2 separate regions of the Homo sapiens genome follow, and region 2 is linked to region 1. Evidence: fine-mapped expression QTL. A gene starts in region 1. The other region holds a variant in brackets. All regions are shown on one strand. Distances are between the middles of the regions.

Evidence for each region. PIP is the estimated chance that this variant, and not a neighbour inherited with it, causes the effect. A credible set is the group of variants that fine-mapping cannot tell apart.
Region 2: its variant is the best candidate, but not a certain one, in a credible set for the expression of PUS7 in whole blood (INTERVAL, PIP 0.74).

The regions. Positions count from the first base shown.
Region 1 is chr7:105,518,665-105,526,998 of GRCh38, forward strand. It overlaps PUS7 (pseudouridine synthase 7), which reads right to left and starts at 3,607. Exons shown (of 16, transcript NM_019042.5): 1 at 3,388-3,607. RefSeq lists enhancers at 1,502-2,119, 2,434-3,088, 4,372-4,872 and silencers at 2,631-2,776, 2,986-3,735.
Region 2 is chr7:105,543,595-105,551,928 of GRCh38, forward strand. RINT1 (RAD50 interactor 1) reads left to right here. Exons shown (of 15, transcript NM_021930.6): 5 at 3,316-3,489; 6 at 3,590-3,739; 7 at 4,960-5,116; 8 at 6,461-6,571; 9 at 6,667-6,892; 10 at 7,976-8,113. Among named protein-coding and RNA genes, the nearest start is that of RINT1, 16 kb to the left of the region's middle. The variant C/A (reference allele first, on the strand shown) is at 4,595.

The DNA of each region.
Region 1 (8,334 bases):
AGGTGTGCACCACCGCCCAGGCCAAACAGTCCCTTATTAATTAATTCCTCCAAAATAAACATCAGAAAAACAGCCATTAGTCTTTTTTTGAATTATTTTTTATTTTATTTTGTATATTTTTTGAGACGGAGTCTCACTCTATTGCCCAGGCTGGAGTGCAGTGGCGCAATCTCGGCTCACTGCAACCTCTGCCTCCCGGGTACACGAGATTCTCCTGCCTCAGCCTCCTGAGTAGCTGGGATTACAGGCGCCCGCCACAACACCAGGCTAATTTTTTGTATTTTTAATAGAGATGGGCTTTCACCGTGTTATCCAAGATTGTCTCGAACTCCTGACCTCATGATTCGCCCGCCTCGGTCTCCCAAAGGGCTGGGATTACAGGCCTGAGCCACCGCGCCCAGCCTACAAAAACAGCCATTAGTCTTAATTCTATCATATTATATTTCAAAACTATCCACAACTTTCACTTTGTAAATACATCTTTCCTCCATCCCCTGCAAATTATCAGTAATCTCTATAGCTCTCACAATAGTGAGCATTTTCTTTAGGGCCAGAGCACAGAGAACACACTAATTTTTTTTTTTTTGGAGATGGAGTTTTCCTCTGTTGCCCAGGCTGGAGTGCAGTGGTGCAGTCTCGGCTCACCGCAATCTCCACTTCCAGCGTTCCGGCGATTCTCCTACCTCAGCCTCCCGAGTAGCTGGGATTACAGGCATGGGCTAAAATTACCACATCCAGCTAATTTTTGTATTTTTAGTAGAGAGGGGGTTTCGCCATGTTGGCCAGGATGGTCTCAAACTACTGACCTGACCTCAAACGAGCTGCCTGCCTCGGCCTCCCAGAGTGCTGGGATTACAGGCATGATGTCACCAGGCCCGGCAGACACACTGCATTCTAATATGCAAAATCATTAAGTCTATGAGGGTCATTCATTCTGCAAATATTTACTGAGCAAGTGTCCTATGTGTCTGGCATTGTTGTAGGTACTGGAAGAAAAGGGTAATACCATTTCCTGTCCTCATGTAGCTTACAATGTATTTGAGAATATATCTGAGAACAAAATAAATCTCAGGACATGCGAGCTCCAAAGAATTAAAACAGGGTAAGGGGCTGAGAGTAAGAGGGGTGTTCTTCAGTGATGCCTCGTCTAAGGAGGAGACTTCTGAGCAAAGACAAGGAAGAACCAGACAGGAAAAGATGTGTGTGAGGAGAGCTCCAGGCAGCCCGAACAGCACGTGTAAAGGACCTGAAACCGGAGCAAACTTAGTCGACAGTATGACCAGCTGGATTGTTCTCTCTCTCTCCTAGGTAAGGAAAAACGCTGCTTCATTAATACAGTACATGCATGCCCCTGCCTCTATCAAAAGACACGTTCAAGGCCGGGTGTGATGGCACACGCCTGTAATCCCAGCACTTCGGAAGGCTGAGGCGGGTGGATCACCTGAAGTCTGAAGTTCAAGACCAGCCTGGCCAACATGGTGAAACCCCGTCTCTACTAAAAATACAAAAATTAGGCGGGGCGCGGTGGCTCACGCCTGTAATCCCAGCACTTTGGGAGGCAGAGGCGGGCAGATCATGAGGTCAGGAAATCGAGACCATCCTGGCTAACACAGTGAAACCCCGCCTCTACTAAAAATATAAAAAATTAGCCGGGCGTGGTGGCGGGCGCCTGTAGTCCCAGCTACTCGGGAGGCTGAGGCAGGAGAATGGCGTGAACCCGGGAGGCGGAGCCTGCAGTGAGCCGAGATCGCGCCACTGCAATACATCTCCAGCCCTCAAGCTGGGTGAATGCTTAACGAGTGGATGGAGGTGCTGCCTCTGCAATACATGTGGGCGACAGAGCGAGACTGTCTCAAAATAAATAAATAAATAAATAAATAAATAAATAAATAAATAAAAATACAAAAATTAGCTGGGCATGGTGGCGTGCACATGTAATCCCAGCTACTCCGGAGGCTGAGGCAGGAGAATCGCTTGAACCCAGGAGGCTGAGGTTGCAGTGAGCCAAGATCGTGCCATTGCACTCCAGCCTGGGTGATGGAGTGAGACTCCGTCTAAAAAAAATAAATCAAAAAACAAAGATATGTTCAAGGCCGAGTGTGGTTGCTCAAGCCTGTAATTCCAGCACTTTGGGAGGTCAAAGCAGGAGGATTGCTTAAGGTCAGGAGTTTGAGGCCAGGCTGGGCAACACAGCGAGACCCTGTGTGGTGGCACATGCCTATAGTCCCAGCTACTTGGGAGGCTGAGGTGAGAGGATTGCTTGAGCCCAGGAGTTCAAGGCTGCAGTGAGCGATGATCACGCAACTGCACTCCAGCCTGGGCAACAAGAGCAAAATTCTGTCTCAAAAAAATTAAAAAAATAAAAATAAAAAAACCAAAAACATGTTCACAAGGAGTTGTTAAGTACGTACTGTTGGCTACTTTCCTAATGTTTGAACCTAACAATTGCCTAACCAACCCCTTTTCAATAGTGTTGTACAGTCTGATTTTCGACAGATCCCTCAATAGTCGAGGCTCCCCCAGGCCAATGGGGCATAGTCATTTCATAGATGATTAGAGGCTTGGGGATGGGGGGGAGGGAACCTTAGTAACCCTTTATTTTTGGAATGGAAAAAAAAAGTAGTCTGACGGGACCAAATATTTTAAAAACTAAACTCTTTGCCAACCCTACTCGGCAGGCAACGAAGGTGTGCTTCTAAACACCTCTGCGCAGGGCTGACGAGGAGGACTCGAATTTCAGCTTGCACAGCAGCACCTCCATCCACTCGTTAAGCATTCACCCAGCTTGAGGGCTGGAGAAAGCACTCTGAGTCTGCAGCCCGTCCACTCCTACTCTGGGAAATGCATACAAAGCAAGCAGTCCCCAGAGCCCGCGTGGCGCCTAGTAGGCTCCCAGTGAGCGGCGACGCAGGACACAGGGGTGGAACACGTGGGCTGGACCCACAGAAGGCAGGCGCGGCGAAGCAGTGGCACCGTGAAGGGCTTCAGGGCCAGTGTTCCTCTGACGGAGGGACAAGAGTTTAGGGAGCGTCCGGGGCAAAGAAAGGGAGGAGTGGGAAGGGGGCCCCCGGGGGACAGCGCCGCGCGGGGAGGAGGGGAGCGCTCGGGCGCGGCGCCTCCGGACGACTGGCCGGGCAGAGCGGAGCGGGGAGCGGGGAGCGGAGAGCGGCGCCTGCACCGCCGAAGCGCAGGACCCACTGGGTTCCAACCGTGCTCCCGCTGGCACGATCCATAATGGAGGCGCCGCGGGCTCTGACCACTGCGGGGCCGCCTTCCCAGTCCGCCTTCCCAGTCCGCACTGCCTCTTGGGGCGGGGCCCTGGGGCTGGGGCTGGGGCCAGGGCCAGGCCGAGGAGCCCCGGCGGCCGCGGGGAGGCCGCGCACTTACCCGGAGCCTGGGAGCGCGGGCGCGGCGTGAGCTGGGCGGCGAGGTGGCCAGCGCTCTGGTTGGGACGCAAGAGAGCGGCGAAGGCCACTTGGATGAGCCAGCGGCTAGGGCGGCCAGGCAAAAGCAGCGCTTTCCGCGCGGAGGACCAGATGCGCTCCAGCCGACTCACCGGCGGCCGGGCTCGCACACGTGCGGCGCAGCGACGCGCCGCGGCCCGACTGGACCCGCCCCGGGGGCGGAGTCCGCTCCCTGCCGCCGGCCCCGCCCCCGGCCCACCCACTCGGAGCGGCCTGCAAGCCAGGGAGCGCCCCAACGCGGACTCCCAGCCTACGCGCGTTCACCCTGGACCTTCCTCGCGACCGCGCCTGAGTCGCACCAGCGGCAGAGAGCGATTTCACCAAGCATCTAAGAGTTCTTTAGATCTTTAGGAAGTCTAAGGCAGCGATTGCCTCCTTTGGTGTTATATTCTAAGTGTTTCCTTCACATAGTTGTGGCCCTTTCACGTTGCACCGACCACGCAGTTGACAATAATGGAAAGAGAATCACTTTAGGGACTAAATATTGTTCTACATTTGATCCTGGGAATGTAGTGGATCTAAAAGCACCATCTTCCTACTTCTTACCGCTCTGGCTTGATGGCTTGCCATAGGATCTGCTTCAAGAAACCGGATCATAGGTTTTTTTTGTTTTGGTTTGGTTTGGTTTTGACAGAGTCTCGCTCTGTCGCACAGGCTGGAGTGCGGTGGCGTGAACACAGTTCACTGCAGCCTCGACCTCCCAGGCTCAAGCAATCCTCCCACTTCAGTATCCCAAGTAGCTGGGACTACAGGTGCATCCCACCGCACCCAGGCTAATTTTTTTGGGGGTGGGGGGTAGAGACAAGATTTCACTATGTTGCCCAGGCTCTAATAGTTTTTTTGCTTTTTGTTTGTTTGTTTGTTTTTTGAGACGGAGTCTTGCTCTGTCGCCCAGGCTGGAGTGCAATGGCGCGATCGCTGCTCACCGCAACCTCCGCCACCCGGGTTCAAGCGATTCTCCTGCCTCAGCCTCCCGAGTAGCTGGGATTACTGGCGCACGCCACCATGCCCGGCTTATTTTTTGTATTTTTAGTAGAGTACGGGGTTTCACTATGTTGGCCAGGCTGGTCTCGAACTCTTGACTTCGTGATCCGCCCGCCTCCGCCTCTGTGTTGAGATTACAGGCGTGAGCCACCGCTCCCAGCCTCTAATAGTTTTTCCGTTTTGTTTTATTTTGTTTGAGAGAGAGTCTCACTCTGTTGCAGGGTTCAAGCGATTCTCCTGCATCAGCCTCCCGAGTAGCTGGGCCTACGAGTGCTTGACATCATGCCAGACTAATTTTTTTGACGGGGTTTTTGCCTGTTGGCCTTGAACTCCTGACCTCAAGTGATTTGCCTGCCTAGGCCTCCCAAAGTACTGGGATTATAGGCATGAGCCACCATGCCCTGCCCAATTTGTTTTTTTGTTTTGTTTTTTACACAATGAAATATACTATTACCGGCCGGGCGCAGTGGCTCACGCCTGTAATCCCAGCACTTTGGGAGGCCGAGGTGGGCGGATCATGAGGTCAGGAGTTTGAGACCAGCCTGGCCAACATGGTGAAACCCCGTCTCTACTAAAAATACAAAAAATTACCCAGACGTGGTGGCACGCGCCTGTAATCCCAGCTACTTGGGAGGCTGAGGCAGGAGAATCGCTTGAACTCAGGAGGCGGAGGTTGCAGTGAGCTGAGATCGCACCATTGCACTCTAGCTTGGGCAACAAGATGGAAACTCTGTCTCAAAAAAAAAAAAAGAAATATATTATTACCATACAATTCAGCAATTACACTCCTTGATATTTACCTAAAGGAGTTGAAAACTATGTTCACACAAAAACCTGCACAAGTATGTTTATAGCTGCATTATTCATAATTGCCAAAACTTAAGGACGGGCCGGGTATGGTAGCTCACGCCTGTAATTCCAGCACTTTGGGAGCCCGAGGTGGGCAGATCACGATGTCAGGAGTTCAAGACCAGCCTGGCCAAGATGGTGAAACCCCCATCTCTACTAAAAATACAAAAATTAGCCAGGCGTGATGGTGGGCGCCTGTAATCCCAGCTACTCAGGAGGCGGAGGCAGAAAATTGCTTGAACCCAGGAGGCAGAGGTTGTGGTGAGCCAAGATCATGCCACTGCACCCCAACCTGGGGGACAGAGTGAGACTCCGTCTCAAAAAAAAAAAGACCAAGATGTCCTTCAGTAGCTGAATAAACTGTGCTGTATCCAAACAATGGAATATTATTTGGTGCCAAAAAGAAATGATCTTAGCAAGCCATGAAAAGACATGGAGGAAACATAAATAAATATTTTTTATTTTATGTATTTATTTATTCTGAGATCTAAATAGATAAGGTGATCTGCCCACCTCGGCCTCCCGAAGTGCTGGGATTACAGGCGTAAGCCACCATGCCCAGCCTTAAACGCATATTACTAAGTGAAAGAAACCAATCTGGGCCAGGCATGGTGACTCAGGCCTGTAATCACAGCATTTTGTGAGGCTGAGGCAGGTGGATCACTTGAGGTCAGGAGTTCGAGACCAGCCTGGCCAACACCGTGAAACCCCATCTCTACCAAAAATACAAAAAATTAGCCAGGCATGGTGGCACACACCTGTAATCCCAGCTACGCGGGAGGCTGAGGCGGGAGAATTGCTTGAACCTGGGAGGTGGAGGTTGGGGTGCGTCGGGATCATGCTATTGCACTCCAGCCTGAGCGACAGAGTAAGACTGTCTAGAAAACAACAACAACAACAACAACAAAAAAAAAAAACAAAAAAAATCTGAAAAGGACACGAGCTATATGAATCCAACTAAATGACAAAATGACATTCTAAAAAAGGCAAAACTATATAAGACAGTAATAAAATTAGTGGTCGCCAGGAGTTAGGAGAAAGGGAAGGATGAATAGGTGGAGCACAGAGAATTTTTAGGGAAGTGAAACTATTCTGTATGATACTGTAATGCTGGCTGTATGTCATGATACATTTGTCCAAGCCCATAAAATCTACAACAGGGGTCCCCAGCCCCCCCAAGTCACGGACTGGTACCAGTCAGTGTGGCCTTTTGGGAACCAGGCTGCACTGCAGCATTCCCGCCTGAGCTCTGCCTCCTGTCAGATCAGTGGTGGGATTAGATTCTGATAGGAGCGAGAACCCTACTGTGAACTGCACATGTGAGGGATCTAGGTTGCATGCACCTTATGAGAATCTAATGCCTGATGATCTGAGGTGTAACAGTTCATCCTGAAACCCATTCCTACCCCCTAGTCTGAGGAAAAAATGTCTTCCATGAAACTAGTCCTGGTGCCAAAAACATTGGGAACTGCTGATCTACAGAACTAACAGTGATGTAAACTATGGACTCTGGATGATAATGTGTCAATGTAGGTTCATCAATTATAACAAATGTACCACTTTGGTGAGGGAGAGGCTATGCACGTGTGGGGTCAGGAGGTATATGAGAAATCTCTATACCTTCCTCTCAATTTTGCTGTAAACTAAAACTGCTCTAAAAAAGTAAAGGCTTAAAAAAAAAATCTCTGAGAGGCTGGGTGCAGTGGCTCACACCTGTCATCCCAGTACTTTGGGAGGCTGAGGCGGGCGGATCACAAGGCCAAGAGATCGAGACCATCCTGGCCAACATGGTGAAACCCCATCTCTACTAAAAATACAAAAATTAGCTGGGTGTGGTGGCACTCACCTATAGTCCCAGCTACTTGGGAGGCTGAGGCAGGAGAATCGCTTGAACCTGGGAGACGGAGGTTGCAGTGAGCTGACATCTCACCACTGCACTCCAGCCTGGTGAAACAGCGAGACTCCGTCCCAAAAAAAAAAAAAAAAACTCTGAGAGTGCAGCCCAACTCCTCATAAACAGATTTAGAGGAAAGATTTTTCACATTTCTTTGGCCATTTCTAAGGTTTCTTAGACAAACCTTACTCGTTTTGCATTTTAGCCAAAACTGCCTAGGTCAAGGTACAAGTGAAACATGGATTTTTAGTTTTCTGTTTTCCAAAATGGGCAACTCTTTATTGGTTTTTTAATTAAAATAACACAAAAGTGTTCAAAACCTCTTCCTAGTATCAACTTCTTCTAATAAACATGTAACAGTTGAATGTTGTCTTCAACTTCAAAATTCCATTCTAACACGTCTATTATGTATAACGTACAGTATCCTGCTTTTAACTCCACCTCACACTACAGATTGCTAGGTGCCTATCACACACACTTTCTCTCTTCTTTCATCCTTATTATTGACTACTATGCTGTCCACTTCGGATGCCTTTCTCCATGCCCCAGATAGTAGTTCACTGTTTTCTGTGTTCCCTCAGTCATTGCCAACATTTCTGTTGTCAAAACTATACACTTAATCTTAAATTATTTATTTACCTATTTCCTTTATCAGAAAGTGGATTTTTCAGAAGCCAAAATTTGGGTTTAGGGCATTATTTTTTCTCCTTTAATTTTATTTTTAATTGTTATCAGAGTTATACATGTTGTAATTTAGAGTCAAATAATTCTGTAGAAACTTTGTAAGGTTTGCAATGAAGCAGCAGGGACTGTATTCCCACTTCAGCCCTCACCTGTTTCCATCTTCTCAAAAGCAGTCATTTCACCTCTTTTTTTTTTTTTCTTGAGACAGAGACTTGCTCTGCTGCCCAGGCTGGAGTGCAATGGCATGATCTTGGCTCACTGCAACCTCCGCCTCCCACGTTCAAGCTATTCTCCTGCCTCAGCCTCCTGATTAGCTGGGACTACGGGTACATGCTACCATGCCTGGCTAATTTTTGTATTTTTAGTAGAGATGGGTTTTCGCTATGTTGGCCAGGCTGGTCTTGAACTCCGGACCTCAGGTGATCCACCCGCCTTGGCCTCCCAAAGTGCTGGGATTAC
Region 2 (8,334 bases), 25 kb after region 1:
GCAGAGCTGTCAGCAACCATTAATTTTGCCTGGAAAACCTGAGGGAGAAAAGTCTTCTGGGAGTCTTAATGTCCTGTTTCAAATGTATCATAGTTAATAAACCTGATATTACTTTTGTTATGGATATGTTTTATGTATTTCTTTTTCTTGCATATATTTCCCAAAATTTTAAAGAATTTTACATATCAATATAATATAGAAATCTTTGTTTTTAGGCCAGGTGCAGTGGCTCACACCTGTAATCCCAGCACTTTGGGAGGCCGAGGCGGGCAGATCACGAGGTCAGGAGTTTGAGACCAGCCTGACCAACATGGTGAAACCCCGTCTCTACTAAAAATACAAAAAAAAAAAAGAAATTAGCCAGGCATGGTGGCGCGTGCCTGTAATCCCAGCTACTTGGGAGGCTGAGGCAGGGGAATTGCTTGGACTCGGGAGGCAGAGGTTGCAGTGAGCTGAGGTTGTGCCATTGCACTGCAGCCTAGGCAGCAAGAGCGAAACTCCGTCTCAAAAAAAAAACAAAAAAAACAAAAAAACTTTGTTTTGCATGTATGAGGAGTTTTACATATAAAGTGGTTTAGAACATCTCATTCTTGTTTAGATAAATTATTTGCAGTGAAGGAATTTTAAACCTTGCTTTATTTTACTGCATTTCTCCTTGTCCCTCAGAAAGGAAATATCAGTAAGGGGCAATGTTAATAACTTTATTAAGTAAAATACGTTATTTGAAAACCTCACTCTTGTAGTAGCCAAAGTAATAGATTAACTAAATTAGGTCCATGGTTATTGATAAACTTTTCTTTTTTCTTCTTTTTTTTAACATTTATTTTATTTATTTTAATTTTCTTTTTATTTTTTTTTGAGTTGGAATCTTCCTCTGTTGCCCAGGCTGGAGTGCAGTGGCACAATCTCAGCTCACTGCAACCTCCACCTCCCGGGTTCAAGCGATTCTCCTGCCTTGGCCTCCCGAGTAGCTAGGACTACAGGTGTATGCCACCACGCCCAGCTAATTTTTGTATTTTTAGTAGAGATAGGGTTTCACTATGTTGGCTAGGCTGGTCTTGAACTCCTGACCTCAAGTCATCTGCCTGCCTTGGCCTCCCAAAGTGCTGGGATTACAGGTGTGAGCCACTGCACCTGGCCTTGATAAACTCTTCAGATATCTGAATTGTTTATAAGGGAAATATGCCGAGGGATTTATATTAGAAATAGGGATCAAATTCATAAGCAGGTAGAGCACAGTTATTTTTCTGTCTTTAATAATGTGTTATTTCCCTGAGGTCTTTTATGATAATCTCTCCATTTCCAGCTTTCCTTTAGAGCTTCTGGGATTTTCTTCATCTCTAAATTTTTTTATAATGGCCTATTTTTATTCTGATGTACATTGTCTTTTTTTCAAGTAGTTTCTTCTTGCTAGAATTAGCATCCTTACATTAGCTCTGTTTCTTGGATACTATAGTATAGCACTATCACTCTGAGTGAACCTTGTTTCTCTAGCTTTTCCTATGTTGTAAATGTCATTCATACTTTAGTGTTGTGAGGAAATCTATTTCATTCCTTCCTTAAAAGCAGTACTCCTGCCGGGCATGGTGGCTCATGCCGTAGTCCTAGCACTTTGAGAGGCTGAGGTGGGCAGATCGCTTGAGCTCTGAATTCTGTGACCAGTCTGGGCAACATGGCAAAACCCCATCTCTGTTTAAAAAAAAAAAAATCAGCCAGGCTTGGTGGTGAGCACCCATAGTCCCAGCTACTCGGGAGGCTGAGGTAGGAGGATCGCTTGAGCCCCGAGAGGTTAAGATTGCAATGAGCCGTGATTGTACCACTGCACTGCAGCCTAGGTGACAGAGTGAGACTCTTTTAAAAAAAAAAAAAAGGCAGTACTCATATTCTGTTTGTACATTTGAAATTCTTCTGTAATATTTGTATATATATATATATATTTTTTTTTTTTTGAGATGGAGTCTTACTCTGTTGCTGAGGCTGGAGTGCAGCGGCACCCTGTCAGCTCACTGCAACCTCTGTCTTCTGGGTTCAAGCAATTCTCCTGCCTCAGCCTCCTGAGTAGCTGGGATTACAGGTGCCCATGACCACGCCTGGCTAGTTTTTATATTTTTAGTAGAGACGGGAAGGGTTTCACCAAGTTGGCCAGGCTGGTCTCGAACTCCTGACCTCCGGTGATCCACCCATGTTGGCCTCCCAAAGAGGCCACCACGCCTGGCCTCTTTTTCTTTGAGACGGAGTCTCACTCTGTTGCCAGGCTAGAGTGCAGTGGCATGATCTTGGCTCACTGCAACCTCCGCCTCCCGGGTTCAAGCAGTTCTCCTGCCTCAGCCTCCCGAGTAGCTGGGATTACAGGTGCCCACCACCATGCCTGGCTAGTTTTTATATTTTTAGTAGAGATGGGGGATGGGGAAGGGGGGGCGGGGGGCGTTTCACCAAGTTGGCCAGGCTGGTCTCAAACTCCTGACCTCCGGAGATCCACCCATGTTGGCCTCCCAAAGTGCTGGGATTACAGGGTTGAGCCACCAAGCCCCGCCTGGAATTATATTTCTTTGAAGTGGGAAATCAAGTTCAGCTGGGCAAAGTATGTAACAATTGAAGACCATCATACTTGACTTTACCAGATACTACCACATTATTCCCTTGGATTAAGATACTGAAGACTTTGTAAAAGGCAGATTTATCAGAAATGAGTGGTGCCCAAAGGAATATGACACAAAACAGGTCTGTCAGGAGGAGTAGGAAGGGAAAGGTCCCGGGAGAGGTCTTGAACATAGGCTGCAGGCTGCTGCTCTTAGAAGAATGCAGAAGTAGAGGACTCTAGGCTCCCAGAGAGGCCTTGGTAAAAGGCCTCAGGGTGGTGCTTTGTTAAAAAACAAAGGCTACCTCAGGGTGGTGCTTCATTCTTCCTTGGATGTAACTTTATATAAAACATGAAGAAGAAGCACTTTTTCCGAATTTGAAATTATTCTGAGCAATCCGTTCTTTAAATTTGCTTTCGGCTGGGCACGGTGACTCACGCCTCTAATCCCAGCACTTTGGGAGGCCGAGGCGGTCGGATCACTTGAGGTCAGGAGTTCAAGACCAGCTTGGCCAACATGGTGAAACCCTGTCTCTACTAAAAATACAAAAAATTTAGCCAGGCATGGGGGCGCATGCCTGTAATCCCAGCTACTGTGGAGGCTGAGGCGGGAGAATCACTTGAACCTGGGACACAGAATTTGCATTGAGCCAAATCATGCCACTGCACTCCAACCTGGGCAACAGAGTGAGACTCTGTCTCAAAAGAAAAAAAAATTTGCTTTACTTTGTTTACAGTGATAACATTCAGCAATATCTGATGACCAATAATGTACCGGAGGCAGCCTCCACTCTAGTGTCTATGGCAGAACTTGACATTAAACTTCAGGAATCATCTTGTACTCATCTTCTTGGTTTCATGAGAGCCACAGTTAAATTCTGGCATAAAATTCTCAAGGACAAGCTTACAAGGTAGGGAATTTACCCATATTTTGTGGTAATTGCTTTCCGATGGGTATTTGGTGATCATTTGGTGATGTACTGAAATGTATGTGTTACTTTTCCATTGCAGTGATTTTGAGGAAATTTTAGCACAGCTTCATTGGCCATTCATCGCACCCCCTCAATCACAAACTGTTGGCTTAAGTCGACCTGCCAGTGCCCCGGAGATATACAGTTACCTGGAGACACTGTTTTGTCAGCTTTTGAAACTACAAACCTCGTATCTTTGTTGCAGCTGAAAACTTACTAAAATTTCTTTTTTCTAGAATGGGTTTGTGGCTAGAGAGTAAAACTTTTTCAAAGTGGCCAAGAAAGCCAAATAAGAATCCTGTGTTTGGACTTGGTCTGTAAATGTCCACTGAGTGGTGGACTGTACTCTTGCAAAGTGAATTGCTTGTAGGTGTGAGGGCTGTAAGGAAGAGTTCCGGGATACATGACTGATCCAAGTTCATAGCACAAAAAGGTCTCTTGGGGCAACAGAACAAATGGGCAATTGGGAGGAAACCTTTAGTGTCATAGCGTGAATTTAATCAAATGATACTTGAATTTTTTTTGTTACTATTTTAGGAAAGATTTATAGATTAATTCTAATACCATTTTTGTGCTTTTTTTTTTTTTTTTTTGAGATGGAGTTTCGCTCTTGTTGCCCAGGCTGGAATGAAGTGGCGTGATCTCATGATCTCGGCTCACCACAGCCTCCACCTCCCGGGTTCAAGCGATTCTCCTGCCTCAGCCTCCCGAGTAGCTGGGATTACAGGCGTGCACCACTATGCCCAGCTAATTTTGTATTTTTAGTAGAGACGGGGTTTTTCCATGTTGGTCAGGCTGGCCTCGAACTCCTGACCTCAGGTGATCCACCCGCCTCAGCTTCCCAAAGTGCTGGGATTACAGGTGAGAGCCACTGCACCTGGCTCATTTTTGTGCTTTTTTTAAAGACATGGTCTCACTTTGTCACCCAGGCTGAAGTGCAGTGGTGCAGTCATGGCTCACTGCAGCCTTGACCACCCAGGCTCAGTTGATTCTCCCACCTCTTCTTCCTGTGTAGCTGGGACTACAGGCACGTGCCACCATGCCC[C/A]GCTAATTTTTGTTGTTTTTTGTAGAGATAGGGTTTTGCCGTATTGCCTAGGCACGTCTCAAATTCCTGTGAAGTGGCCCAAGTGATTAGCCTGCTTCAGCCTCCCAAAGTGCTGGGATTACAGGCATGATTCACTATCATCATGCCTGGCTTTTTGTGCATTTTAACTGAATGTATATTCAATATAAAGAATTAACTGTATGTTTATTCAATATAAAATTAGGTTACATATTATTTGCATCATAATTAACTCTACTGAGTATCTGATACATTTGTTGGAAAAATTTATTGTGTGTGTATACATACATATGTGTGTGTATATTAGGTATGCTTTTGATTCTTTTTCCTTGACTTGATTATGTCAGAGATGAATTACTTACTGAGCCAAAGCAACTCCCAGAAAAATACTCTCTTCCTGCCTCCCCTTCTGTCATCCTGCCCATCCAGGTTATGCTGACTCCTCTTCAGAAGAGGTTCAGGTATCACTTCAGAGGGAACCGGCAGACTAATGTGTTAAGCAAGGTGTGTTTTGCCAGCTCTTGTCCTTGGTTTTTATTGGTAACAAATGTTAGAGTTTCTATACCTTTGCTGGTTTAAGTTAAAATCTGACTCTCTTCACATTTCTGTTTTTTTTCTAAAGGGCTACATTCCTGTTTTGTTACTGCTGTTCATACATATAATTGAGGACTTGTGTTCATATACTGTAGGAAAAATGGTATTTCCGCTCTTGGGCATCAGATATTGCTGAGTTATCATTGCAAAACAAAGCAAAGCAAATAGTAAGCACTTGGTATTTCTTTTCTTTTTTTTTTTTTGTGAGTTGGAGTCTCGCTCTGTCACCCAGGCTGGAGTGCAGTGGCACAATCTCTGCTCACTGCAACCTCCACCTCCCAGGTTCAAGCGATTCTCCTGCCTCAGCCTCCCAAGTAGCTGGGACTACAGGCACATGTCACCACACTGGACTAATTTTTGTAATTTTAGTAGAGATGGGTTTCACCATATTGGTCAGGCTGGTCTGGAACTCCTGACCTCAGGTGATCCACCTGACTTAGCCTCCCAAAGTGCTGGGATTACAGGAGTGAGCCACTGCGCCTGGCATGTACTTGGTATTTCTGCTCTTAAACCTGTATAAGACATGCGTAGTTTTTGTAATGCAGACTAGCAATTTTTTTTTTTTGGAACGAAGTTTCACTCTTGTTGCCCAGGCTGGAGCGCAATGGTGTGATCTCGGCTCACTGCAACCTCTGCCTCCCGCGTTCAAGCGATTCTCCTGCCTCAGCCTCTTGAGTAGCTGGGATTACAGGTGCCCACCACCACGCCCAGCTAATTTTTGTATATTTAGGTGAGACGGGGTTTCACCATGTTGACCAGTCTGGTCTTGAACTTCTGACCTCAGCTGATCCACCCACCTCGGCCTCCCAAAGTGCTGGGATTACAGGCATGAGCTGCCACGCCTGGCCAGCAATTTTTTTCTTGATTTACTTTTTGAAAATAAAAACCATAAGAAAATAATATTAAAATTATTTTCAAATGCTATTTCAAAAAATATAGGCCATCAGTTCTTTGTAATACTCATCATTTTACATATTATTGAAGTGCTAGGTTTTAAATATATATGGCATTGTAAATTTATGAGTTTATTGACTTAAGTCATATTATTGAAATTTGTTGGGAGTACATTAGCAAACATTTGATTATTAAGCCTTGCAGGAGTTTAAAATTTGGAGTAGAAATTGTGCTCTTACATACAGGAATTTTCAACTAATTTTTATAAGTGTTGTGCATATACAATTAAATAGAACCATGTAATTGTAACTTTCTAATTGGAATGACTTAAGAATTCAAACTATTTTCCTCCTTCCTTAGCCAGAATGGTACTTGGCTCAAGTACTTATGTGGATTGGAAACCATACTGAATTTCTGGATGAGAAGATTCAGCCAATATTAGACAAAGTAGGCTCTTTGGTAAACGCAAGGGTAAGAGACTCAGTCATAAGTGTTTCTGTTTTAGAACTGTATGTGTGCATGGATAACTTTTTATTTACATACCTCATGTTTGTGTATTTTTTTAGCTTGAATTTTCTCGGGGCCTTATGATGCTGGTTCTTGAGAAGTTAGCCACTGATATTCCTTGTCTGCTATATGATGACAATCTCTTCTGTCATTTGGTGGATGAAGTACTCTTGTTTGAAAGGGAGCTACACAGTGTTCATGGCTATCCTGGCACTTTTGCTAGTTGTATGCATATTCTATCAGAGGAAACCTGTTTTCAGAGATGGTTGACGGTGGAGAGAAAATGTAAGTGCTGATGTGGCCAGATGGTAGGGAGATATGTCTGTTTCTGTGGGTATACATTTTTGATATTTTTCTTCTCCAGTTCTAAATAGGAACTAGAGCCATTTGAAATTTCCTTTTCAGGGTTTTCTGTTTCCTTCAGAGATAATCTTTTCTTTACTTCACATGAAACTTCCATTTTTCCTGAAATTACACTCTACATATTTCTAGAGTGGAATAGTCAAGCCAGTGGGGTGTTTGTTTTATAGATTTTATCATATAATTTATTTTATTTTTATTTATTTATTTTGGGACAGACTCTTGCTCTGTTGTCCAGGCTAAAGTGCAGTAGTTTGATCTCAGCTCATTGCAACCTCCACCCCCTGCGTTCAAGCGATTCTCCTGTCTCAGCCTCCCGAGTAGTTAGGATTACAGGCACGCACTACCACGCCTGGCTAATTTTTCTGTTTTTAGGAGTGACAGGGTTACAACATGTTGGCCAGGCTGGTCTGGAACTCCTGACTTCAAGTAATCCACCTGCCTTGGCCTCCCAAAGTGTCAGAATATTTTATTTTTTTATTTTTGAGATAGGGTCTCACTTTGTCACCGAGGCTAGAGTGGAGTGGGCCGATCATGGCTTACTGCAGCCTCGACCTCTGGGGCTCAGGTGATCCTCCTGCCTCAGCCACCCCAGTAGCTGGGAGTATAGGTATATGCAAGCCATGCCTGGCTACTTTTTGTATTTTTTGTAGAGATGGGGTTTCCCTGGGGTTTTGCCCAAGCTGGTTGTGAACTCCTAGACTCAAGCAATCCACCCACCTTGGCCTCCTGGAGTGCTGGGATTACTGGTGTGAGCCACCGTGCCTGGCCAATAGAATATTTTTTACTGTAGCTTATCTAGTCAACATAACTATTTTCAGAATTTGGGGATGGGAGTAAAGTATCCTGTTTAAAGCATTAATTAAGTTAAATTTAGTACAACCAGTGGGATATTGTAGGTTTGTTTCTTTTTTATAGAAAAGCCATCATTCCTAAAAAATTACAAGTTGAATAATTAGGAACGACTGTAACTACTTAATTGACATAATTGTTTTGTCTGCTTATCAGTTGCTCTTCAAAAAATGGACTCAATGCTTTCCTCAGAAGCTGCCTGGGTATCGCAATATAAGGATATCACTGACGTGGATGAAATGAAAGTTCCAGATTGTGCAGAAACTTTTATGACTCTACTCTTGGTTATAACTGGTAAGTATGTCTTTTAAGATATGACTTTGTTTTAAAAGTACTGTTTTCACGTGGTAGTTTTTAAAGTAGCTCAGTAGGCTGGGTGCAGTGGCTCATGCCTGTAATCCTAGCACTTTGAGAGGCTGAGACGGGCAGGTTGCTTGAGCCCAGGAGTTCGAGAACAGCCTGGGGTACATGGTGAAATGCCCTCTCTTCCGAAAAAATACAGAAATTAGCCAGTT